Homo sapiens: one gene and its partners. The protein of the gene in region 5 purifies or fractionates together with the protein of the main gene of each other region. This does not show direct contact. Each region holds a gene or a part of one and is shown on either strand. Other genes may lie near its edges.

The links.
Region 1: the proteins of FGF13 (region 5) and RBM28 purify together in Homo sapiens (affinity purification with mass spectrometry; one large-scale study listed by BioGRID and IntAct). This does not show direct contact.
Region 2: the proteins of FGF13 (region 5) and ZFP62 purify together in Homo sapiens (affinity purification with mass spectrometry; one large-scale study listed by BioGRID and IntAct). This does not show direct contact.
Region 3: the proteins of FGF13 (region 5) and LARP1 purify together in Homo sapiens (affinity purification with mass spectrometry; one large-scale study listed by BioGRID and IntAct). This does not show direct contact.
Region 4: the proteins of FGF13 (region 5) and U2SURP purify together in Homo sapiens (affinity purification with mass spectrometry; one large-scale study listed by BioGRID and IntAct). This does not show direct contact.
Region 6: the proteins of FGF13 (region 5) and DHX8 purify together in Homo sapiens (affinity purification with mass spectrometry; one large-scale study listed by BioGRID and IntAct). This does not show direct contact.
Region 7: the proteins of FGF13 (region 5) and NOC3L purify together in Homo sapiens (affinity purification with mass spectrometry; one large-scale study listed by BioGRID and IntAct). This does not show direct contact.

Annotation. Positions count from the first base shown.
Region 1 is NC_000007.14:128,312,909-128,316,408, reverse strand, and holds part of RBM28 (RNA-binding protein 28), read left to right. Parts: intron 1-1,388; coding exon 1,389-1,645; intron 1,646-3,134; coding exon 3,135-3,234; intron 3,235-3,500. UniProt on the Homo sapiens protein: Nucleolar component of the spliceosomal ribonucleoprotein complexes.
Region 2 is NC_000005.10:180,851,277-180,854,776, reverse strand, and holds part of ZFP62 (zinc finger protein 62 homolog), read left to right. Parts: intron 1-2,716; exon of another isoform or gene 2,717-2,789; intron 2,790-3,283; coding exon 3,284-3,500. UniProt on the Homo sapiens protein: May play a role in differentiating skeletal muscle.
Region 3 is NC_000005.10:154,796,877-154,800,376, forward strand, and holds part of LARP1 (la-related protein 1), read left to right. Parts: intron 1-2,714; coding exon 2,715-2,883; intron 2,884-2,996; coding exon 2,997-3,166; intron 3,167-3,500. UniProt on the Homo sapiens protein: RNA-binding protein that regulates the translation of specific target mRNA species downstream of the mTORC1 complex, in function of growth signals and nutrient availability.
Region 4 is NC_000003.12:143,032,570-143,036,069, forward strand, and holds part of U2SURP (U2 snRNP-associated SURP motif-containing protein), read left to right. Parts: intron 1-214; coding exon 215-377; intron 378-701; coding exon 702-781; intron 782-2,318; coding exon 2,319-2,406; intron 2,407-3,412; coding exon 3,413-3,500.
Region 5 is NC_000023.11:138,631,718-138,635,217, reverse strand, and holds part of FGF13 (fibroblast growth factor 13), read left to right. Parts: intron 1-2,231; coding exon 2,232-2,368; 3' UTR 2,369-3,500. UniProt on the Homo sapiens protein: Microtubule-binding protein which directly binds tubulin and is involved in both polymerization and stabilization of microtubules.
Region 6 is NC_000017.11:43,521,975-43,526,170, forward strand, and holds the end of DHX8 (ATP-dependent RNA helicase DHX8), read left to right. Parts: intron 1-72; coding exon 73-252; intron 253-1,653; coding exon 1,654-1,873; 3' UTR 1,874-3,696; downstream 3,697-4,196.
Region 7 is NC_000010.11:94,332,726-94,335,832, reverse strand, and holds the end of NOC3L (nucleolar complex protein 3 homolog), read left to right. Parts: intron 1-1,114; coding exon 1,115-1,199; intron 1,200-1,527; coding exon 1,528-1,656; 3' UTR 1,657-2,607; downstream 2,608-3,107. UniProt on the Homo sapiens protein: May be required for adipogenesis.

The DNA of each region.
Region 1 (3,500 bases), on a different chromosome or scaffold from region 5:
AAATTACTTTATTTGTTGCCTGGATTTATATTCATACTGTTCTTTCTGTGTAAAAATGCCTCTACTCACTTTGCATATGCAGATCAAATGATCTCTTTCAAGTTGCATGCCTCCACCTCTCTCAAAAGATATAAGGCCCTCTTTACTTGATTTTCATGAACTTCCTTAAGCTGTGTAGTTTTTTTTACTTTGGTTTATTTGTGAATGCATCTCTTATCTCCACCTGGCTGTGAGTCCTGAAGGGTAGACACTATTTTTTTGTATCCTGGAAACAGACTGGCACACACTAGGCATATAATAAATGTTCATTGTATCGTTGTACCTATCTAGATTTCTAAGGTGAAAGGGAAGAACAACACACACTTATCATTACATTAATTTCACTTGAATCTTCTGTTTCTTCCACTTCAGTGCAAATACTTCTATAACTTCCTTGATGCCTTCCTTCCCACAGCATCTTTTTCTTGTCGTCTTTACTTCATTTATTCCATTCCTGATGTTCTTCCTTTCTTGAAAACGATCAGTTTCTGACCTATGTCATTTTTCTTCTCTCTGAAGAGATTATTTCGCATTTCTTGCAGACAGGTCTACTGGCAACAAATTCTCTCCATTTTCTTTTGTCTGAGTAAGTCTTTTCCTTCACTTTTGAAGGATAAGTTTATCGGATACAGGATTGTAGGTTGGTGATTTTTTTTTCTTTTAAAAATTTAAATATTAAATATCTCACTTCACTCCCTTCTTGCTTACATGGTTTCTGAAGAGAAGTCTTGGAAATCTCTCTCAATCTACTCTGGTTTGGGAGGGTGCCTATTAAAAACAAAAGAGAGAGAGATTTGATGTAATCTCATCCTTGTTCCTCTATAGGTAAAATTTTTCCCCTGTCTGGCTTCTTTCAAGATTTTATCTTTGATTTTCTGCAGTTTGTCTATGATATGACTGGTTGTAAATTGTTTAGTATTTATCTTATTTGGTCTTCTCTGAGTTCCTAGATCTGTGGTTTAGTGACTGTCATTAGTTTTGAAAAATTCTCAGCCCTTATTACTTCATTATCTTTTCTGTTGCTTGCTTTCTTCTTGTATTCTCCTTCTACATAGGTTACACCTTTGATAATTGTCCCACCTACTGACTTTTGAATTTTGGGCATGCACTCTCCCTTATTTCTGTGTTATGGGAAGGGGAATGGTTATTTTGTGCCCCCCACCCAGTAACCATCTGTTACTGTGGCAGGGCTTGTGATCTACATGTATTCACTTTCCTCTAGTCTCCAATTGTGTGGGGGAAGAATTCCTCTTCTTTCATCTAGCTCACATAAAGCTCATCTTCTGCTGAGTATTTGCAGCAAACAAAGCTCATCCAGAAACCAGATGGCATTTTCTTGTTTTATGCAGCAAAAAATGAGATCCAAGCCTGCAACTGGTGAGCCTCAGAAGGGGCAACCAGAGCCTGCAAAAGACCAGCAACAGAAGGCAGCTCAACACCACACAGAGGAACAAAGCAAGGTGCCCCCAGAGCAGAAGAGAAAGGCGGGCTCTACCTCATGGACCGGGTTCCAGACCAAGGCTGAAGTGGAGCAGGTGGAGCTGCCTGATGGAAAGAAGAGAAGAAAGGTCCTGGCGCTCCCCTCACACCGAGGCCCCAAAATCAGGTGAGATGCAGGAGGGCAGAAGCACAGAACAGTGGGTGGGTTCTAAGCGGGTTTGTTTTTGCTGAGTTATTTTCTCTTTGTGGCATTTGTTTGGTTGAAAAGGATGTTTGGTGCTATGTATTCCCACACATGGGGTTAACACGCGAGTCTTCAACACCATCAGAGATGTCACTCTTAGATCAATGGCAGAGGGGCCTCCTAGGGCAGGCTTTTGTGCCCCTTTTCTCCTCTTTTGAAGAGCTTCCTCTTGTCCAGATGGCCATCTCTGCCAGCTGAGACCACATACTTGAGGTTCAGTTGTAGTTTCTGTTTGGGACAGCAGATTAGTGCTCTACAAAAGTAAATCTTTACAAAATATTTGTTAAATAAATGAAGGTTTTTGAGATATCCATGGGGTTTTATTTATTTATTTATTTTATTTTTAGAGACAGTGTATTATTCAGTTCTTCCACTGCTATAAAGAAATACCTGAGACTGGGTAATTTATAAAGAAAAGAGGCTTGGCTGGGCGCGGTGGCTCACGCCTGTAATCCCAGCACTTTGGGAGGCCGAGGCGGGTGGATCACGAGGTCAGGAGATCGAGACCATCCTGGTTAACATGCTGAAACCCCGTCTCTACTAAAAATACAAAAAATTAGCTGGGTGCGGTGGCGGGCGCCTGTAGTCCCAGCTACTGGGGAGGCTGAGGCAGGAGAATGGCGTGAACCCGGGAGGCGGAGCTTGCAGTGAGCCGAGATCACGCCACTGCACTCTGGCCTGGGCGAAAGAGCGAGACTCCGTCTCAAAAAAAAAAAAGAAAAGAAAAGAGGCTTAATTGGCTCATGGTTCCACAGGCTGTACAGGAAGCATGACAGCAGCTGCTCATCTTCTAGGGAGGCCTCAGGAAACTTAATCATAGTGGAAGGTGAAGTGGGAGCTGGCACATCACATGGCCAGGAGCAGGGGGGAGTGTTTTAAACAACCAGATCTTGTGGTAACTCATTCACCGTCACGAGAACAGCACTGAGGGGATGGCGCTAAACCATTCATGAAGGAGTCATCCCCATGATCCAGTCACCTCCCACCAGGCCCAGCCTTCAACACTGGGGATTACAATTCAACGTGAGATTTGAGCAAGGACACAGATCCAAACCATGTCACAGGGTCTTGCTCTGTTGCCCAGGCTAGAGTGCAGTGGCATGATCATAGCGCACTGTAACCTCAACTCCTGGACTCAATCCACCTTCCTCAGCCTCCTGAGTAGCTGGGACTTTTTAATTTCGTTGTAGTAGAGACGGGGGATTGCTATGTTGCATAGGCTGGTCTCAAACTCCTGGCATCAAGCAGTCCTAAGTATACAAATGTTGAGCTTTCAGAGGGTCTGTTGCAGTATCCCTTTTTAGAATGACTTCACTTATCATGGGCTTGGGAAGGGCCAGTGTACAAAGAGAACCTAGGGGTGTCAAATTAGAAGAAGGACTCAAGGTGACACTCAGCCATGTTATTTCAGGTTGCGGGACAAAGGCAAAGTGAAGCCCGTCCATCCCAAAAAGCCAAAGCCACAGATAAACCAGTGGAAGCAGGAGAAGCAGCAATTATCGTCCGAGCAGGTGAGTTCTGCAGGACATACAGCTTTGGTATGGCATGGTTCTGCCAGGTCGTAGCCATGTTTGTACCTTGGTTAGTTGAGCAAAAAAGAAAAAAAGAAAGACTTCTGTGTAGGACGGTAGCTTTTTAGAGAATGTTGAGCTATACAATCTTAAAAGTGGAGAGAAAAAAGTAAAATGAACCTCCACGTATCTGTTCCTGTGTTTCAGCAGTCTCCTTGTTTTACATATTCCCCATAACATGCTTTCCCCACTAGAGTATATTAAAG
Region 2 (3,500 bases), on a different chromosome or scaffold from region 5:
CACCCTCTGTTTTAGTAGAAAACATTGTTCGTTTTGGGTTTACCTGGTGATTCAGTTCATGTAATGCATTCTCATAGGTGATGTGTCCTTCTCCCTACTAAAAGCATATTATGTCTATCTGCCCCTCTGGAGGTGTTAAATTAGAACACCTGGCCAAGGCATTGTCTCTCCACTCTTGTATTTTTCCCCCTTGTAAATAATTTAAGCATTATAAATATTTAAGACCATGCGGATATCCTGCTCCTTGTCAGAATTTCCTCCTAGACGTAGAATTCACTGATGATTCTCTCCTGATCCAGTCTTTACTCTGATAGTTGCAGAGTGCTGACTTTTCCAATTCTGGTATTCCTTCTACATTTATCAACCAGCACTCACATTCTGCTGTAAGCAAGAGGCCTCCCTTTCTCCCCTGTTTGTACCTGTGTAGACTCATGAAATCCTATCTTCAGTGGTTTATAATGTATCACTATACTTAGTTATTACGGTGCTTGAACACTGGATGTTCAAGCTGGGTCTTGCAGCGTGTCCCTACCCTTTTTTTGAGCCTCTCTTTACTTGCTGGTATAGCATGATGCTCATCTTGTATGTTTCCTGCTTTCAGCCTGCAATCAGCCATTTCTTTGAGGAGCTCTGGTTCCTTTTAGTAAATAATGGTAATAGTAGACCCAGAATGGGGTACTAGATGTGCTCATTACCACTGGAGTGTTTTGTTTTTTGGGCTTTCAGCAAACAGAACTAGGAAATCAGGAAATATATGCAAATATATGCATACAGCCATACAGGCTTGAATATACATGCATGCACATATATGTGATTTAGAAATCATAAGTTCACACCAGTACTGCAAATTCATCCCAAGGTTCATTTTCGCCTTCTTCTCTTGCTTATTTTTATGTCCCTTTCTCTAGGAGAGCCCTGAGCCCAACAAAATCAACACATTTACTCAGGTTCTTAATACATCTAAAGTTGTTTCAGAATCGCTTTGTTCATACCTCTACAGAAAACCTGCTAACAGTTGAATTATTTGTACCTCTTCCCACTGCCCCGCCTCCAGCTTTCCCCAGACTGAATGTACTTACGTAGTCAAATACGTTTCTAAGTTGCCTGGATTACTTCTGTATTTCTTTTTTGTTCTCTTCCTGCGATTGTGGTATTCATGGGAAATGCAAATAGGTTGATTTGTTTTGTTTTAGCAGTTTTTCTCCTTTCCCATCCTCACTGATGTTTAATTTTATTCTTTGAATATGTAGAATATTATGTATTTTGTATAGTAAAAACTATTAAAAAGGCTATATACTCGGAGTCTCTCTCTTTCTCCCATCCCTTCTGCTCCATTCTCCACACTCCTCCCTTGTAGGTGATGAACCTCATTGTTCTCTGGTTTATCGTTGCTATAAAGAGAAACACATACGTGCTTGTTTTCCTGTTTTCTTTCCTACACGAAACGTAGCATGTATATTACTCTTTTTCACTTTGACCTTTTGACTTTAGGATATACAGATTGCTCCATATCAATTCAGAAGCGCTCCTCGTCCTTTTTCAGTACTCCGTTGTGTATATGCTCCAGTTTATTTAACCAGTCTTCTGTGCTTGGAGATTTATGTAGGTTTCCAGATTTTGCAGTTACAATTAATGCTATAATGAGTCACTCTGTGCATGTATGTTTTTTATATTGTTGGAGGTGTATCTTCATTATAAATTCCTAAAGTAGGACTTCTGGGTAAATGCATATGTAGTTTTGATAGATATTGGCAAATTCCCCTTAAAAGGGGCTGTGCCAGTTTGCATTCCCAGCAGTGTATGAGAGTGCCTGTTTCCTCCACAGCCTTATCAACAGTGTATTGTCAAGCTTTGAACATTTGCTAATATGACAGGTGAGAAGTGGTGTTTTACAGTAGTTCTTATTTATCTTTCTCTCATTATGAATCAAGTCGAATGTTTAAGGACCATTTAAAAGAATTGTTTGTTCATCTTTTTACCTGTTTTCCTGTATGATTTGTAGTTTATTTTTCTTCAGTTTTTGAAAATGTATCAGTCTTTTGTTGCATATGAGTCATCATTAGAAAGCTTCCTCTATACTCAGGCCAGAGAGGCATTTACCCATGTTTTCTGGCATTTGTACAGCTTTTTTATATTTAGAGCTCTATTCCATATGGAGTTTATTCATGTGTGTATGGTGTGAAGAATGGGATCTAATTGTATCTTTTTTTTTTTTTTTTTTTGTGAGACGGAGTCTTGCTCTGTCACCAGGCTGGAGTGCAGTGGAACGATCTCGGCTCACTGCAACCTCTGCCTCCCAGGTTCAAGTGATTCTCCTCCCTCAGCCTCCCAAGTAGCTGGGATTAGAGGTGCGTGCCATCACGCCCAGCTAATTTTTGTATTTTTACTAGAGACGGCTTAACCATGTTGGCCAGGATGGTCTCGATCTCTTGACCTCGTGATCCGCCCACCTCAGCTTCTCAAAGTGGTGGGATTACAGGTGTGAGCCACTGCACCCAGCCTTAATTTTATCTTTTTCCATATGGCTTCATAGTTGTTACAACACTATTAAAAGGACCATCTTTTCTCTGGTAATTTCAGATATCATCTGTATCATTAATTTCTGTGTCTACCTGGGACAATGTCTGGACTTCCTGTTCTATTCCATTTGCCTGTCTATGTACCAGGACCATACTATTTTAATTATAGACGTTTAATAATATATTTTAATATGCAGGTTGCCTTCTTCCTCATCTCTGCAGTAACTGTCTTCATGGTTTCATAGCCTTCTCCCTGATACCCCTCCCCAGGTACTAATTTTTTCTCTTTAGTTTTGTCTGTCCTCTGCTGATTTTGTCTAACTTTTCATAATAAAAAAAAGTTTTACCTAACTTTTGTCCTACTTATGAATTTTTCTGTCTTCTTCAGAGATTTCTTCTGCCCTCTTGTTTGTTTTTCCATGACTGGGTGACATTGTTTAAAAACTGATTGGTGTTGCCCATGGTTCTGTGCATCATTTCACCCTGCCCTATGCTAAGCTGTTATGCAAGAATAGAAAAGCTCATTGTTCCATTGAAAATCCAGGGTTCTAGCATTTTAACATTAGTTCCACAGGGGCAGAAATTTTGTCATATTCATTGTTGTATCCCTAGTACTTAAAAACCGGTACATGGCACATGGTACCTGTCACACAGTATGTTGTCAGTAAATGTTTGTCAAGTGAATGTTGTTCATTGTTATTCCAGTTTGTTTTTGTTTTTTTTTAAGAGAGTGAATAGGTGTCCTTTTCATTTTCTTGGTTTAGTGTCACATTTGAAGACGAGCACTGAGGATGAGGAACCAACTGAAGAATATGAAAATGTTGGAAATGCAGCATCTAAGTGGCCAAAAGTGGAGGATCCTATGCCTGAATCTAAGGTTGGTGACACATGTGTTTGGGATAGCAAGGTAGAGAATCAACAGAAAAAGCCTGTGGAAAACAGGATGAAGGAGGACAAAAGCAGCATCAGGGAAGCAATCAG
Region 3 (3,500 bases), on a different chromosome or scaffold from region 5:
GGTTTCATAGGTGACCAGTGAGATTTGGTGGTTTGTTTTCGTATCATTTGTTATTATAAGCTTATGGGCTCAAACGTATTTATTTTGGTCCATTGCAGTTAATGGATTGGATCAAATTGTCCCACCTTTGGTCAGTGGGACCCTATACATTTCCTGCCCCAGATCTGGAATTGGCCACTTTTAAAAGGAATTCTAGTTCCTTTCTTTTGGGAAATGGTATTTAGATACCAGTCTGAGTTATAGGGGTGCTTTATTGCTACTTGGTTGGTCATTCTTTCTAGATGATTTTTTTGTTTTTTGGTGAGATAAAATACATCATGGAGTTATTCTGTTTTGTTGTTGTTGTTTTTTTTTTTTTTTTTTTTTTTTTTTTTGAGACAGAGTTTCACTCTTGTTGCCCAGGCTGGAGTGCAGTGGCATGGTCTCAGCTCACTGCAACCTCCACCTCCCAGGTTTAAGCAATTCTCCTGCCTCAGCCTTCCAAGTAGCTGGTATTACAGGCATGCACCACCACACCCAGCTAATTTTGTATTTCTAGTAGAGATGGGGTTTCACCATGTTGGCCAGGTTGGTCTCGAACTCCTGACCTCAGGTGATCCACCCACCTCGGCCTCCCAAAGTGGTGGGATTACAGGCATGAGCTACCGCGCCCGGCCTGTTCTGGTATTTTCTATTAAAGGGTCTTTACGTAGACTTGTGGATCTTTTATTTTACCTACTGCTTTCTTCCATGCCCATAATCTTAATTCCTAATGATACCAACATAATTACTCATTTTGTTTTATTTCACAGTATGTCTACCGTCTTTTTTTTTTTTTTTTAAACATTTTTTAAAGAGAGAGGGTCTTGCTCTCACAGGCTAGATTGCAGTGGTGTGATCATGGCTTACTGCAGCCTCAACCGCCTGAAATCAGGCAATCCTCTTGCCTCAGCCTCCTGAGTAGCAGGATTACAGGTGCACACCACGTGTGGCTAATTTTTAAATTTTTTGTAGAGATGAGGTCTTGCAGTGTTGCCCAGGCTGGTCTGAAATTCCTGGGCTTGAGCCATCCTCTCACTTCGGCTTCCAAAGTGTTGGGATTACAGGCGTGAGCCATTGTGCCAAGCTCTACATTCTTACAATACCTCCACTACCACTGAAAACAGTTTTTCCACTTATACAGTATCTTCAAGTCATTTGAAAGAATCTTTGTGTGGTTTCACATTTAAATTGATATATATATTAGTTTTATTTTGCTTCCAAGTTTTAGAGATTGCTTTCTCCCTACCCCTATAATTTTCTAAGTTGTTTTACATTTGTGTAAAACATTTACGTGGTTCTAGAGTCTCAGCATGGTATAGTCATAGAAGTCTGACTTAAATTCTGTCACTTACACCCTTTCTTCTCTTACAGGCAAACTTTTTAGAACCTTTCCATTTAAGAAAAAAGCAAATGCCTCTACATGTATTTGTATCCTTGGTAAATGGAAATATACAACACATGGCATTTCTTCAATTCTTTTTTGTTTTAACTTAATATATCTGGGAGCTAACTGCAAAGTAGCAGTATATAATAGAAAGATATTCCTCATTCCTGTGTACAGTTGCATAGTTCACCATTGTGTGGAATGCTCCATGTTTTTTCAACTGCTGCTCCTATAGATGGATGTTTTGGTTGTTTTTTTGAGACTAGGTCTTGCTCTTTTGCCCAGGCTGGAGTTAGTACAGTGGTGTTATCAAAGCTCACTGCAACCTCAACCATCTAGGCTCCCAAGTAGCTGGGACCACAGATGTATGCCAGCGCCACCTTTTTACGATTTGTAGTGATAGAGTCTCGCTATTTTGCTCAGGCTGGTCTTGAACTCCTTTGCTCAAGCGATCTACCCACCTTGACCTCCCAAAATGTTGGGATTACAGGTGTGAGCCACTGTACCCAGCCTGCTTTTTTGATTAATATTTTGTGGGTTTATCCACCTCAGCACATGTAAAGTTGGTTGTTTTTTTGTTTGTTTGTTTGTTTGTTTGTTTGAGACGGAGTCTCGCCCTGTCGCCCAGGCTGGAGTGCAGTGGCACCATCTCGGCTCACCACAACCTCCACCTCCTGGGTTCAAGCGATTCTCCTGCTTAACCTCTCGAATAGCTGGGACTATAGGCGTGTGCCACCACAACCAGCTAATTTTTGTATTTTTAGTAGAGATGGGGTTTCACCATGTTGGCCAGGATGGTCTCAATCTCTTGACCTTGTGATCTGCCTGCCTGGGGCTCCCAAAGTGCTAGGATTATAGACGTGAGCCACCAGGCCCGACCTGTAAAGTTTTTTAATGTCTGAGTAGTGTTCCATCATGCATATGCTGTAAATATTTAAATTGCCTATGCGATGGCAAGTTAGGTATTTTATAGTTCTTTTTCTACTCTAGTTTTACTGTGAATGGCTTTTTGTCCAGATATTATACATACTGCTCCCTGTTTGTGCAAGTGTTCTCTAGAGCAGATTACTGGAAGTAGGATTGCAGGCTCAAAGAGTAAAAGGGTAGGTGTATTTATTATGCTGGTACCTCCTACAAGTTTGAACATCTCACATTATCTACCAGTCGTGGAAGATGGTGTCAATTTTCTTATATTACTGGTAGCATTGGACTCATACCAAGCTCAGGGGAACCCAGTTGTCTACCATTTCCAAGATCTTTCTGTCCAAGATTTTCTTCTTAATCCCCTCTTCCTTCTCCTCCCCTTCAGGCCCTAAAGGACAGCAAGGTGGTGGAGATCGTTGATGAGAAAGTTCGTAGGAGGGAGGAACCAGAAAAGTGGCCTCTTCCCCCAATAGTGGATTATTCACAGACTGATTTCTCCCAGCTTCTCAACTGCCCTGAATTTGTTCCCCGTCAGCACTACCAAAAGGAGACAGGTAGGTACCTGCTGGCATGAAGATTGCCCTTGTCCTCTGGGCAACAGTCCTCCTCAGGGCTGGCATCAGGAGGAGGACTGGAGGGATGAGGACTTCCCCTTTCCACCCTTTAGAGTCGGCACCTGGCTCTCCTCGTGCAGTCACCCCAGTGCCAACCAAAACAGAGGAGGTCAGCAACCTAAAGACACTACCCAAGGGCCTGTCTGCCAGCCTGCCTGACCTGGATTCTGAGAACTGGATTGAAGTGAAGAAGAGGCCTCGGCCATCCCCAGCACGGCCCAAGGTGGGTGAGGCCTTGTCCCTTGCCTTGGTTCTAGCACTCTGAGCTAGGGTGCTTGAAGGGGATAACACATGGGCACAGCACTCTAGCTCTGAGGGGCCAGCAGGAAATCTGGGTAGTTCAGGATCATAGTGTGAGTTGAAGTTACCAGTAGTGGCTACAGAAAGGTTGATTTGGCTTGTTTCCATTTCCTGTGGGGAACCACCCTTTAGGGCGCCCTACTGTGTGAGTTCCTCGGTGACATTTTTCTTAAGGGATCATGCAGCATCTGGCAGCGATGTTTCTGGCTTCTTGATTCTTGGCTCTTCTTTTTGCTCCATCTAAATTTCTGGGGCTG
Region 4 (3,500 bases), on a different chromosome or scaffold from region 5:
AATTGGAATCTTATTCTACAGAGTATTCTTATATAAATTCTTCAAAAAATTGTAACAATTTTGGGGGACACAACACAAATCAGACTGAATGTATTACAGTCTTCAGAATTATTTTATGTGAGTAGGTTTTAAAGAAATTAGTTTGTGAGCAAAAGCTACAATGGCATTTGAAATTGTATCTAAATATTTATAAGTTAAAACAATTTATGTTCAGACAGAGGGATAAATTGGAAGAAATCTTGCGGGGATTAACTCCAAGGAAAAATGATATTGGAGATGCAATGGTTTTCTGTCTTAATAATGCTGAAGCTGCTGAAGAAATAGTGGATTGCATTACTGAGTCGTTGTCCATCTTAAAGACACCCCTTCCTAAAAAGGTATGGGAATGAATTTTAAGAAAAGGGGAGATAGTTGACGTCTTTTGGGATTAGAATTGGTTTCCTTTTTGCACAAAGCACTTGACTGATGAGATTTTTCCCATGCAGTCTTATGTTATTTCTGCTTGGAAATTTAGGTTCATTAACATACAAGTTAACAAACAAGTTGAAATGTAAATGGGTTAACAAATTTCATCTCTGCCAGAGTCATAGTTGTGGTGATACTGAGCTTCATATAACTCTTCTAATTAGTAGCCATAATTAAATTATAGCTAAACATTAGCCTTATATTAACCTATTTTGTGTTATCTTTTGATATTATAGATTGCCAGATTATATTTGGTTTCTGATGTTTTGTACAACTCTTCAGCCAAAGTTGCTAATGCTTCATATTATAGAAAATTGTAAGTATAATGATATAACTGATATTCCTGAAATAAAGTATTTAAGGGTAAGGAGTTCAGAAAAGAGGATTGTTTTGTTAACATCCTGCAAGAATAAGAAGTACAGTCAGCCCTCCATGTCTGTGGGTTCCTTATCCATGAATTCAACCAACCATGAATTGAAAATATTTGAGAAGAAAAATTGTATCTGTACCGAACCTGTACAGACTTTTTTCCTTGTCATTTTCTAAACAATATAGTATGAAAACTCTACATAGCATTTACATTGTATTAGGTATTGTAAGTAACCTAGAGATGATTTAACAGATGGGAGGATGAGGATAGGTTACAGGTGAATATTATGCCATTTTCAATCAGGAACTTGAGCATCTGTGGATTTTGGTGTCCATGGGAGGTCTTGGAACCAGTCCCCCCATGGATACTGAGGGAAGACTAATTTGAATTTCTTAATGGTTTGTAGAATTTTTTAAAAAATTGGCTTACACTTAAGCTAAATTACCAATTTTTTGGAAAGATTTTATATCATATCACTTTCTTAGCTATTGACAGTATAACAAATAGGTGTTAAAGAGAACTTTATTGCATATCTAGCTATTCATATAATAAATAGAAACAGTGTATATACTGGCAAACATAAGAGACCAAAGACATACTATTAACTATAGAATCTGTGTTCTCTTCTGATCCTCAGCATATTGATTTTAGTTCATTGTAAATGTTTCCTAAGGCAAAAGGAAGTTACGTTGCTGTATTATAATTAATGTATAATTCAGCTGGGCACAGTGGCTCACGCCTGTAATCTCAGCACTTTGGGAGGCCAAGAAGGGCTGATTACCTGAGGTCAGAAGTTCGAGACCACCCTGGCCAACGTGGTGAAACCCCATCTCTAGTAAAAATACAAAGATTAGCTGGGCGTGGTGGTGTGCCTCTGTAATCCCAGCTACTCGGGAAGCTGAGGCAGGAGAATCGCTTGAACCCGGGAGGCGGAGGTTGCAGTGAGCCGAGATGGCACCATTGTCCTCTAGCTTGGGTGACGAGCAAAACTCCATCTCAAAAAAAAAAAAGTATAACTTTTCCTCTGTTCCCCAGAGCTCTCTTTCTGTGTTTATTTTATGAATTAGGCAAAGGGAAGCTTTTCCCTAGGATGTTGCTCTGAAAAGAAATTTAGAGAGCTGGATCCTACTCTTAGGTCTGCTATTAGTTTTTTTGCCTTGGACGAGTCACTTTTCTAAGTTTTCTGTTTTATAAAATAAAGAAATTGGACGAGATGGTTCAGCATATCCTAGATATAACGTTTCTTGCTCGTAAAGGGAACTAGTAGGGACTGTTGGGGAGTTTGTAGGAGAAAAATTCAGAGTAATAAGAGTTCAAGCAATTCAGTTACGGTTTTAGAGTTTAAACACCTAGTTTTTGATTTTTAATAATTTCTTGATTTGTAAGTATTTTAAGTTCAGGAGGGGTTTTCATTGGCTGGCATGCTAAAAGGGAAAGGAATTTTAAACATTTTATTTTAAAGAATGTGTTATTTGAATTTCAGTTTTGAAACAAAGTTATGTCAGATATTTTCAGACCTCAATGCCACCTATCGTACAATTCAAGGCCATTTACAATCTGAAAACTTTAAGGTACGTTTATTGTTTTACTATTTTTGCCCTAGTGTTTTAAATGGGTGGGGGGAGGGCATTGAAGGGCTAGAAAAGTGCATAAGACAAGTATGAGACATAAATTTAAAACTTAGATGTTACAGAAGTTACTGTTTTAAAATTCTGTCGTTTTTGTTTTTATCAAATCAAAAATTTAAAAGATACTATTTTGTCAGGTTTAATTTTAGTTTTAAATATTGTTTAAAAATTATAAATGTTAGTCTTTTTTCATAAAACATACAGAAGAATCACTTGTTTTGTAATGGTATATACTATTTGGCTGGATTAAAGACATACATTTTAATCATGTTTAGAAAGTCTATTCTGTTACCAATTTTTTTATAACCTCTTAAGCTCTAGACCAGTGTTAAGAAAAGCCAAGTGTAGTACTTCACTTATAATTGAATAAGTAAATATGCTTTCATGGGAAGAAGACTTTTTTAAGAAAAATTTTTAGTTTCGGAAGATGCCCAGTGACGCCACCATTTAGGGCATTCAGACAACTCCCATTTTAAAAGTTTTTGACCTTAAATTTTGACCATAAGTTAGAATTTAAAGACAAGTTTCAGGAAGATACAGAGTAAAGTATTAGCCAGAATTAGGAAGTACTTTATTGGACCATAAGGGATTCAGGTCAAAACTTGGCTACTTTGGTTTCCAGTTTTAGTAAGTTTCTATGTAAGTGTTTCTGGAATGTGGCTCATGGGTAGTACTAATGGTATGGGAGCTGACCTTAGGTGGTAAAGAGCAAATAGTTACTGTTTATTTTTCATTATATTTATTTTTAGGGGTTTTTTTCCTTTTAATTAGAAGGTGACATTGATTTTTTTAAAAAATATGGTAATGATATATAGTTATTTTCTTTAAAGTTTAAAAAAACATCAGTTTAAAGGCAAATTTAGCAAATCTTGATGATCATTCTCATGAACTGAAATTTGAGACATATAGCCCAAAATAAAAGTTTGTTGTCTGTTTCCTGTTTCTTTAGCAACGGGTAATGACTTGCTTCAGAGCATGGGAAGATTGGGCAATTTATCCAGAACCATTTTTGATCAAACTACAAAATATTTTCTTAG
Region 5 (3,500 bases):
ATATCATGCTTATGCTTTATGTCTTCATAGCTTAGCTCCCACTTAAGTGAGAACATACAATATTTGGCTTTCCATTCCTGAGTTACCTCACTTCGAATAATGGCGTCCAGCTCCATCCAAGTTGCTGCAAAAGATATCATATCATTTCTTTTTATGGCTGAGTAGTATTCCATGGTGTATATATATACCACATTTTTTTATCCACTCGTTGATTGATGGGCACTTAAGTTGGTTCCATATTTTGGCCATTGTGAATTGCGCTGCTATAAACATACCTGTGCAGTTGTGTTTTTCATATGATGACTTATTTTCCTTTCAGTAGCTAGCCAGGAGTGAGATTGCTGGATCCAATGCTACTTTTAGTTCTTTAAGGATTCTCCATACTGTTTTCCATAGTGGTTGTACTGATTTACATTCTCGCCAGCAGTGTAAAAGTGTTCCCTTTCACCACATCCATGCCAACATCTGTTGTTTTTTGACATTTTAATTATAGCCATTCTTGCAGCAGTAAGGTGGTATCTCATTGTGGTTTTAATTTGCATTTCCCTGATGATTAGTGATGTTGAACATTTAGAAATAGTAATTTAAAGCAGTCCTTAATAATACTTTTGAAAATGAAACAGTTGTTCCACATTAAGACATTTATTTAAAAAACTTACATTTTGTAACACTCAAAAACATTTGCTCTCCTGATTTTAATTTTTCCATAGTGCATGTACATATAGTGACACTTTACTTATGTGGAAGTAACTTACATGCTAACTCAGGACAGCCAAGATCCCCAAATTATGCTAAAATGTTGCCTGGGCAGAAACATAGGTGTTAAAAATGTGTATACACAGCCGGGCACGGTGGCTCACGCCTGTAATCCCAGCACTTTGGGGAGGCCGAGGCGGGCGGATCACGAGGTCCGGAGAATGGCGTGAACCTGGGAGGCGGAGCTTACAGCGAGCTGAGATCGTGCCACTGGACTCCAGCCTGGGCGGCAGAGTGAGACTCCGTTTCAAAAAACAAAAGAAAAAAAAAATGTGTGTACACTTAACACTTACCAGAAAGCTCCTTGGGTCCTCTCTAAGGGCCCAACATATTATTTCAGCAAATTTTGCTTATAGTTTTCCCATCATTATTAGCAGATTAATAGCAAATTAGAAAGGGTGAGGGACAAGAATAGGCTATGGAAGATAGGGAGGTAAGAAATAGTGAGATATGGTAGAGAAGAGACAGAAAATGCGGGCAAAGCAGAGGAAGACTTCAAAGAGATTACTAGCCTGAGGTAAGAGTAGGGGTTTAGAGTAGAGGCAGACACTGTGCAATTCGAATAAGCACAGCACTGTGTTTTACAGCACATTTTTTGGAGCCAGACTACCTAAATTCAAGGCCCAACTTCACTTTTTGCTAACTGGATGGTCTTGAACAGGTTATTTACCTGTGTATGCCTCAAGTTCATCTGTATAATATGGATAAGAGTACTTATAAGATTCTCATAGGGACTAAATGGGATAATGCATGCAAAGAACTTAGAGTAGTATCTAATGTTATGTGTTCCATAACTATAAGCTATTATGTTTATTTATAGCACAATAATAAATTTTACCATTTACTGTACCAAGAATTATCCAATACTTAGACTCTTGAAGTGTTTCATTTTAAAGTATGATAGAAATCAGTGTTTTAAAATATTTTAAATTTTAATATTTGCCTTGTACAGTATGCTATAGATCATATTTAAACTTCTAAGAGGTTTATTAAATGCATTTTTTATTAATCCTCTCTTACATAACCATATGTGGTTGAAGTTAGGCATTAAAATTCTTTACACACTACTACACCAAGGCTAGATTTTTGCTTAATCTGAACCTGTCCACTCTCTACTGAGTCCTTGAAAGCAGTGTTTTTCATGTCTGGCTTAAGGCACAGAAGCCTAGTAACCAAAAGAAAAGTTGAGGACCAGTGTGGTAGGCCCATTTTTTTAATGTATTTTTTTTCTCTTTTTCCTTTTCTGAATTTAATTTATAATTGACACAAAAATTGTATATATTTATTATGAACAAGGTATTTTGAAATATGTATACATTGTGGAATAGCTAAATCAAGCTAATTAACATATGCATTACCTCACATACTTATCATTTAGGTGTGTGGAATAGAACACCTACAAACTATTCTTAGAAATTTTCACAATTGGTATGCCCATTTGAAGGCCTTTTACACCATCTTTGTGTGCTTTTCAGTGGCCATGTACAAGGAGCCATCACTGCACGATCTCACGGAGTTCTCCCGATCTGGAAGCGGGACCCCAACCAAGAGCAGAAGTGTCTCTGGCGTGCTGAACGGAGGCAAATCCATGAGCCACAATGAATCAACGTAGCCAGTGAGGGCAAAAGAAGGGCTCTGTAACAGAACCTTACCTCCAGGTGCTGTTGAATTCTTCTAGCAGTCCTTCACCCAAAAGTTCAAATTTGTCAGTGACATTTACCAAACAAACAGGCAGAGTTCACTATTCTATCTGCCATTAGACCTTCTTATCATCCATACTAAAGCCCCATTATTTAGATTGAGCTTGTGCATAAGAATGCCAAGCATTTTAGTGAACTAAATCTGAGAGAAGGACTGCCAAATTTTCTCATGATCTCACCTATACTTTGGGGATGATAATCCAAAAGTATTTCACAGCACTAATGCTGATCAAAATTTGCTCTCCCACCAAGAAAATGTAAAAGACCACAATTGTTCTTCAAAAACAAACAAAACAAAACAAAACAAAATTAACTGCTTAAATGTTTTGTCGGGGCAAACAAAATTATGTGAATTGTGTTGTTTTCTTGGCTTGATGTTTTCTATCTACGCTTGATTCACATGTACTCTTTTCTTTGGCATAGTGCAACTTTATGATTTCTGAAATTCAATGGTTCTATTGACTTTTTGCGTCACTTAATCCAAATCAACCAAATTCAGGGTTGAATCTGAATTGGCTTCTCAGGCTCAAGGTAACAGTGTTCTTGTGGTTTGACCAATTGTTTTTCTTTCTTTTTTTTTTTTTTTAGATTTGTGGTATTCTGGTCAAGTTATTGTGCTGTACTTTGTGCGTAGAAATTGAGTTGTATTGTCAACCCCAGTCAGTAAAGAGAACTTCAAAAAATTATCCTCAAGTGTAGATTTCTCTTAATTCCATTTGTGTATCATGTTAAACTATTGTTGTGGCTTCTTGTGTAAAGACAGGAACTGTGGAACTGTGATGTTGTCTTTTGTGTTGTTAAAATAAGAAATGTCTTATCTGTATATGTATGAGTCTTCCTGTCATTGTATTTGGCACATGAATATTGTGTACAAGGAATTGTTAAGACTGGTTTTCCCTCAACAACATATATTATACTTGCTACTGGAAAAGTGTTTAAGACTTAGCTAGGTTTCCATTTAGATCTTCATATCTGTTGCATGGAAGAAAGTTGGGTTCTTGGCATAGAGTTGCATGATATGTAAGATTTTGTGCATTCATAATT
Region 6 (4,196 bases), on a different chromosome or scaffold from region 5:
TTGGGCACTGTCATTGTGAAAATAGACCTGTGAAAGCTGAGTGGGCTCATATCTTTTGTCCTATCTTGATAGACACAAGCTGGATGTTGTTTCCTGTGGCAAGTCCACAGTCCGAGTGCAGAAGGCCATCTGCAGTGGGTTCTTCCGTAATGCTGCCAAGAAAGACCCGCAGGAGGGTTACCGGACACTGATCGACCAGCAGGTGGTCTATATCCATCCTTCCAGTGCCCTCTTCAACAGACAGCCAGAATGGTAGGTGGACATGTCCCAGGGTCTAGGGGCTTTTCTGGGCAGAGAAAAACCTGTAAATTTCCTGGTATTTTGTGATTGTGTCTTCACTACTCCCAGTATGTCCTAGTATAACACTGCTTGCCTTTCTAGAGCAGCAGAAACCTGAATTAGGCACAATGTATCAAACCCTATGAGAGAATTAAAATCATAGGGGTGAGACCTAGTTGAAAAAAAAAATTGTGGTTTAAAAAACTACGTAGTGGCCAGGCACAGTGGCTCATGCCTGTAATCCCAGCACTTTGGGAGGCTGAGGTGGGCAGATCAGCCGAGGTCGGGAGTTCAAGACCAGCCTGACCAACATGGAGAAACCCTGTCTCTACTAAAAATACAAAATTAGCCAGGTATGGTGGCGCATGCCTGTAATCCCAGCTACTTGGGAGGCTGAGACAGGACAATCGCTTGAACCCAGGAGGTGGAGGTTGCAGTGAGCCGAAATCACCCATTGCACTCCAGCCTGGGCAACAAGAGCGAAACTCCATCTCAAAAAAAAAAAAAAAAAAAAACCAACTACCTAGGGGCTAGGCATGGTGGCTCACGTCTGTAATCCCAGCACTTTGGGAGGCCGAGGCAGGTGGATCACCAGAGGTCAGGAATTCCAGGCCAACCTGACCAACATAGTGAAACCATGTCTCTACTAAAAATACAAAGTTAGCCAGGCGTGGTGGCAGGCACCTGTAATCCCAGCTACTTGGGAGGCTGAGACATGAGAATAGCTTGAACCCGGGAGGCAGAGGTTGCAGTGAGCTGAGATTGTGCCATTGTACTCCAGCCTGGGAGACAGAGTGAGACTCCGTCCCAAAAAAAAAAAAAAAAAGAAAGAAAAAAACAACTACCTAGTGATGTAGTTTAAAAAAAAAAACTTGTTTTAAAGTAGCATTTTTAAAAAATTGGACTCTATCTAGAACCCTAATATAAAACTGATTTAAAACCACCATGTTATCACAGTAGAAGGGTTAGAAATGTGGCTCCTTGCATGTTTGGCCTTCTCCATCCCTTGTGGCAGTGTGAGGCCCCTCTTCAGAGCCCTAGAATTCTGTGGAAACATTCTAATAAACATCCTCACATTTTATAGAGCAAGAAACAGATTAGAGAAGGGATGTGATTGGCTCCATGTCACTTAACTAGTTAGAGCCAGAGCCAGGACTAGAATACATTCTCCTGAGACCTTTCTTGTGGTTAGAGGTGTGCGGGTGCTTCAGTATTGGGGTGTGGCTGTCATAAACAGACTGCAGTCTTATAGGTGTCAGGCAGGAGAGGTAATAGTATAAAATGTAAGCTCAGCTGAGGCCTACTAGGGACCAGGTTGACTGTAGAGTGGGGCCTATATCCAGAGGCTTGAGTACTATCTCTGTCCCCCCTCAGGGTGGTGTACCATGAGCTGGTGCTCACCACCAAGGAATACATGCGTGAAGTTACCACCATCGACCCTCGGTGGCTTGTGGAGTTTGCCCCAGCCTTCTTCAAGGTCTCAGACCCAACTAAGCTAAGCAAACAGAAGAAGCAACAGCGTCTTGAACCCTTGTACAACCGCTATGAGGAACCCAATGCCTGGAGAATATCTCGAGCTTTCCGACGGCGCTGAAAGGCAAGATTGTTCCTTTGCCTCTCCAGCAGCAGTAGCCAGGGCTTGGACTTATCGATGACAGGCTGGTCCTGAGGATACAGCTGTCCCGTGACTGACTGTCTTAACTGAGCATTTTCTCAACTCGACTCTCATTTCTTCCCTGCTGGTAAAATAGAAACAGGGATTTAAACCTGGCTTTGGCAAGAGCCTGCAGCCTCCATCACCCCAAGTCCTTGGGCCCAGTTGGGAGCTCATATCTAACACAGAGACACATTGCATCAACTTCAAGAAAGGGACAATTTGTGCAGCTCCAGGATGGGAAGGTGGAGTGGGTGAGCATCTTGTGCAGGGACATGGTGAGTGCCCTGATGCCCCAGCTAGCAGGAGCTACTGTGCTCATCTAAAGTGTTTGCCCCACTTCCCACCCCGTCTCCAGCCCCTGTACTTTGGCTTGACCTCGTGGAAATATTTATTTTCTTAAGGAAACAAAAATGGTTTTCTGTGACTGTTTTCTTTTAGCCGAAAGGTTAGGATATTGGCCTGGGCTCAGGGTGAGGGAGATTTAGTATCTGTGCTCTGGCACACATGATGAGAATCCCCTGAATCCCCTGAAACCAGAACGCAGGGCCTCTTTGCGCTCGGAAACGACGTACAACCCAGACTTCCAGCCTTGTCTTTCAGCATCAGCACTAGCCGGGCCGTGCTGGGGGATCACCCGATGATCAACCATGTCCTCTCCACAGAGCACTTCAGTCTGGAGGCCTGAGTGGCTACAGATGGCACATATTAAATACAGAAGGTTTCCCCTTGCTCCCTCCACCTCCCACATTCGCAATGTGCAGCATGTCCCATTTCCTTTTGAAACATACTAAGTAACAACACAGCTTTTATTTTATTTTGTTTTTATTTTTTTCCCCTGAGGTCCTGGATGGACTTTAACAAAGGGATTTTATGGTCAAAACCTCCCTTTCCCCACTCCAAACAGAAAACAAACATAACACCTCTCCTCTCAGCTGGTTTGTGCTGCCAGTATCTGTGCTGCAGGGCTTGTTCTTAGTGGTTTTTTCCTAGCACTTGCTTGGAGAATAGCCACCTCCTTGTGCCCTCCTCACAGCTCCTGAGGAGGGTTTTTTTTTTTTCTTCCCATAGAGATGGGTTCCCACTGTGCTGCCCAGGCTGCTCTCCAATCCCTGGCGTCAAGCAATCCTCCTGCCTCTGCCTCCCAAAGCGCTGGGATTACAGTTGAGAGCCACTGTCCTCTGCACTGAGGAGGCTCCTTACCTGGCGGAACATCAGGCAGGTCTTGCCAGGCCAGGTTTCGGAACTTACGGAAAGCTGGTCTGGATGTAGTGCTTGTAGAGAAGCTTCTGAGAGATTGGGCACATCCTGTTACGTTGCTGCTTCTCCTGTCCTTATGTTATTAGTAAGTTCTGAAGTGATGTAAATGCTAGAACTACTGTAGAACTGTATGCCAGACACTAAGAGAGACTATGTAACATTCCAGGATATAAAGGAATGTATGTTGTCACTGGGCAGCAAACCACACCCTAAAGACAATTCAGAAAGAGTCCGAGGGAGAGGAATATAGGCCAGGCAATCTGCTGGCTGCAGATCCCTGCCCCTTCATTAAGCTGAGTGCCTCCTGATTCTGTCTGAGTATTCGCCTTTGTAAGCCCAGGCCAGTAATCAAGGGGCAGGGCATTGTTGTGTGTTAACCTTGAAGGCCTTCTGGGGAGAGACAGTACAGGGACCTCAAATGAAACCAAAGGGGAAACGGGGACTGGGCACCCACCTCCCCAATCTCGTTTTGTTTTTGTTTTTGTTAAGACAGGATCTTGCCATCTTGCCTAGGCTGGCATCAAACTCCTGAGCTCAAGTGATCTTCCTGCCTCAGCCTCCTGAGTAGCTGGGACTACAGGTGCATGCCACCACACCTGGCTCCCAGTCCTAATTCCAGCCTAAATTTTCCCCATTCAGAAACACTCCTGGATATAGTGGCCCAGCCTGTCCTGACTGAGTGCCCAGCACTGACAATGTTGACACCTGGGGAGGGAGGGTTGGGTTTCAAGCTGAGGTTGAAAAGGGATGTTGAATGGGCTAAGGATAAGAGACAGCAGGGTTCGTTATCTTTTCTGGCTCAGGTGGAGGAAAAAGAAGGATCCCCATTCTGTGGGTGTTCCTTGACCATCTCTCTACGCTAGAGCTGAGGTCACTTCTCTGCTATGACAACATAGCTGGGTTCTGACCTTTTGACCATCAGGAAAGCAATGTCAGCAGCTGAGCTGAGCCTGCTCTGAGGGAGAAGGGGGGGGTCCTGTCCAGATGCAGAAGGGGAGCTTGC
Region 7 (3,107 bases), on a different chromosome or scaffold from region 5:
GTTTGCAAGCCCATTGGTTTCTGTAATTCAGAGATCATAGTTTGGTGACCTGTGGGCCAGGCCGATTTTTCTGGCCTCAAGAGTTTGAAAAAAATTGAATTAGTTGCTGTCTTTTAAATATTGAAAGAATTCATCTGAAATTCACATTTCCCGCTTTTCTTGAAATACTGGGAGGTTTGGTGACATTGGCTTGTATTTTACATGACAGTAGTCAGTCAGTTGCTGCCTCCTCTACATGAGGCAAGAGCTCTGCAGTTTTCCATGAGCCCTTTCCTTCTGAGTAGGATGGAGATAACTTTTGGCCTTATTAAATAAAATGGCCATTTACTTTTTCTTCCCTCACACTTCTCACCTGTCCCCAGTCTTCACCCCACCAGCCTTTTTTTTTAAAAGGAAAAAAGGAGAAAACAATTCTTTGTCACTCTTCATAATGATTATTTTATGGCATGTTTTCCTTAGCAGTTTTGCTAAGGAAAGATGTTTCCTTTGTGGAGAAGGATGAGGAATGAGCTTATCCCAAAGGCTTAAGAAAGGAGACTCATAGTGGGCTTCTGGAGAGTGGGTATTGGGATGTGAGCCTAATTGCTACCTTCGTAGGCCCTTGCCTATGTGTTTTGGCGAGTGTGAACTAATTCCAAATCATTAAGGATTCATTTACACGCCATGGGTATAGACATGTATTCTGTCCTGAATGGCCTTTCCTTGTTTTTCATCCAGGCCAGTAGCTGAAGAGTTGAGCTGTGTTCTAAGTCTGTGGAGAATGACTCCATGCTTCAGTCCTCTGGCTCCCATGACTAAGATATACTTAGTTGCATTATCAGTGGGTTGGGATTTGATCACACTGAACTGGAGTTCTTCAGCTTAGCTTTCTCTCTGGAGTCTATGCCTGTATTGCTAAATGTATACCAAACCTCTCTGAGGTGGATTTAGTTGGATAATGTTGACATTACAATGGGAATTTAGAATTTGTTAAGTGACTGGATTGGTTGGTTAGTTTCAAATCTTATACCTTAATATATGGGTTAAGAATGAATCATTCTCTGAGTATAATCTAATTATTTTTGAGTTACACAGATGTGGTGGTATCTTTACATTTTTTGTGTTTGTGATTTAGATCTGCTACTGAACTTTTTGAGGCATATAGCATGGCAGAAATGACATTCAATCCTCCTGTTGAATCTTCAAACCCCAAAATAAAGGTATGGGATATTTTTCATTTTTTTAAAGGAAGAAATAGAAACCAATGTATCTCAATAACTCTAACTCCAGTTTGCTTAATTATTTTATAGGTAGTTTTTTTTTTAATGTTTAGGATTTCATCATAGGATGGATTTCTGAGGTTGAAATTCTATAGAGATGATCATGAAACTGTTCGTTCAATATAGGATATGTCCAAGACCTTACCAAGCATCTGTCATTGTGTTGCATGTGTTGGTGTCAGCTGTTGCCATTTTCAACTTGGTTCACAGGTTGGCTTTAGCTTATAGCATAAGTAACTTCTAACTCATACTTTAAATATTTTCCTAGGGTAAATTTTTACAAGGGGATTCATTTTTGAATGAAGATTTAAATCAGCTAATCAAAAGATACTCCAGTGAAGTTGCTACTGAATCGCCTCTGGATTTCACGAAATATTTGAAAACATCACTACACTAGTAGAGGAATGAAGTCAGTGGACTTTCTTGTATATTTGTGTGTGCAGATGTACATAAAGATGAGTTGTTAACTTAGGATCTTTTCTTTTTATACAAGGAAAGCTTCCTAAGAATGTCTAGGAAGAAGAGGAAGAATGACCCTTTGCATGGCACAGGGTTCTGCCCCTATTCTGAATATGTCATTCCATCAAGGAGATCAAAAGCCTTTTTTTCTCCCCAGTATTTGGAAATTACTTTCTTGATGATGCTGCCTTTTAAAAGCTTCACGTACATTATAGTTTTTTAAAAAAATCTTTGGACTGGATCTTACTGAAGTGCAGTTGCTATATTAAAATTAGGGCATAGAGCACAGAAAAATCAAGACCATGAGAAGACATTTTACCATTTAGCTACTTTTTATAACTAAATACTCTTTAAATATTTTTATTTCAATACTGTGGATGGAAATGAGAAGCATTCTAAATTTGAGTTAATATATTTTTATGAAGATATTTGAGAAAAGAAAAAAATAGCTTGTATTCAGGTTCATTGGCTTTTGCTGGATGATCCACCTAAAGAAGTTACCTAATTTGGCCTTTTAAAAAAGGTGTTAGTGTTTATTATAGCTACTTTCAAGGAAAGTTTGAATATGATTCTAGTCTCTAAAGTTCTTCACGTTTTCTGACATTCCCTGGAGGGTGACTGGGGAAGAATTGCTCCAGGGTAGAAGAACCAGGCCCAAGACTTTACCATTCTGATCTAGAGACAAAGGATACTCAATGAGGAGCTTTTTTCCCCTCTTGGAACAGGTAAAATGCTTTTTCTTATTAATATAATTATAAAACAGTATTTTATGTAACAGCTATTCCCATATTCTAGGAGTGGCCTAAGAAATGCGTGTTTCAGTGACTAGATTATAAATATTCTCTATTGTGAATAGTTGAATAAAACAGCTGTTTTTTTCTGCTTCCTATTCTTGTGATATGATAATTTTTTGAAAAAAGCACAGCAGTCCAACTAAAGAGATCTCTTACTGTTTGAAAGTCATAGCAGCCAGTTATTTTACTCTGGAGCTTAGAGTTCTTTTTTCACATGAAGTAAACGAAAGTAGAAAATTCCTTTACCATTCCAGCAGAGTGAGAGGATATGAGCTTAACAGTGTATGTCAGTCTTTTAGCATATTATATATGATTTTTAAAAGTGGTTCTGAGGTCACATTTTTTAAGGCTTGATTATTTAATGAGAAAGGTATGATTCAGCATATGAATATTTGCTTTTAGTCCACCTTTTAGGTATAAAACAAAGTCCAGGAATGTGATAAATATTTGTGTGGATAACCAAAGGGTCTAATCCCCATCAGAGCACAAGTGACCAATACATGTCACAAATTATTTATTTTCCACACATATACAAATACATTTATACTTTACTTTGGCAGCAGAAACTATACTTCTGGTGAAAAATCAGCTTAAA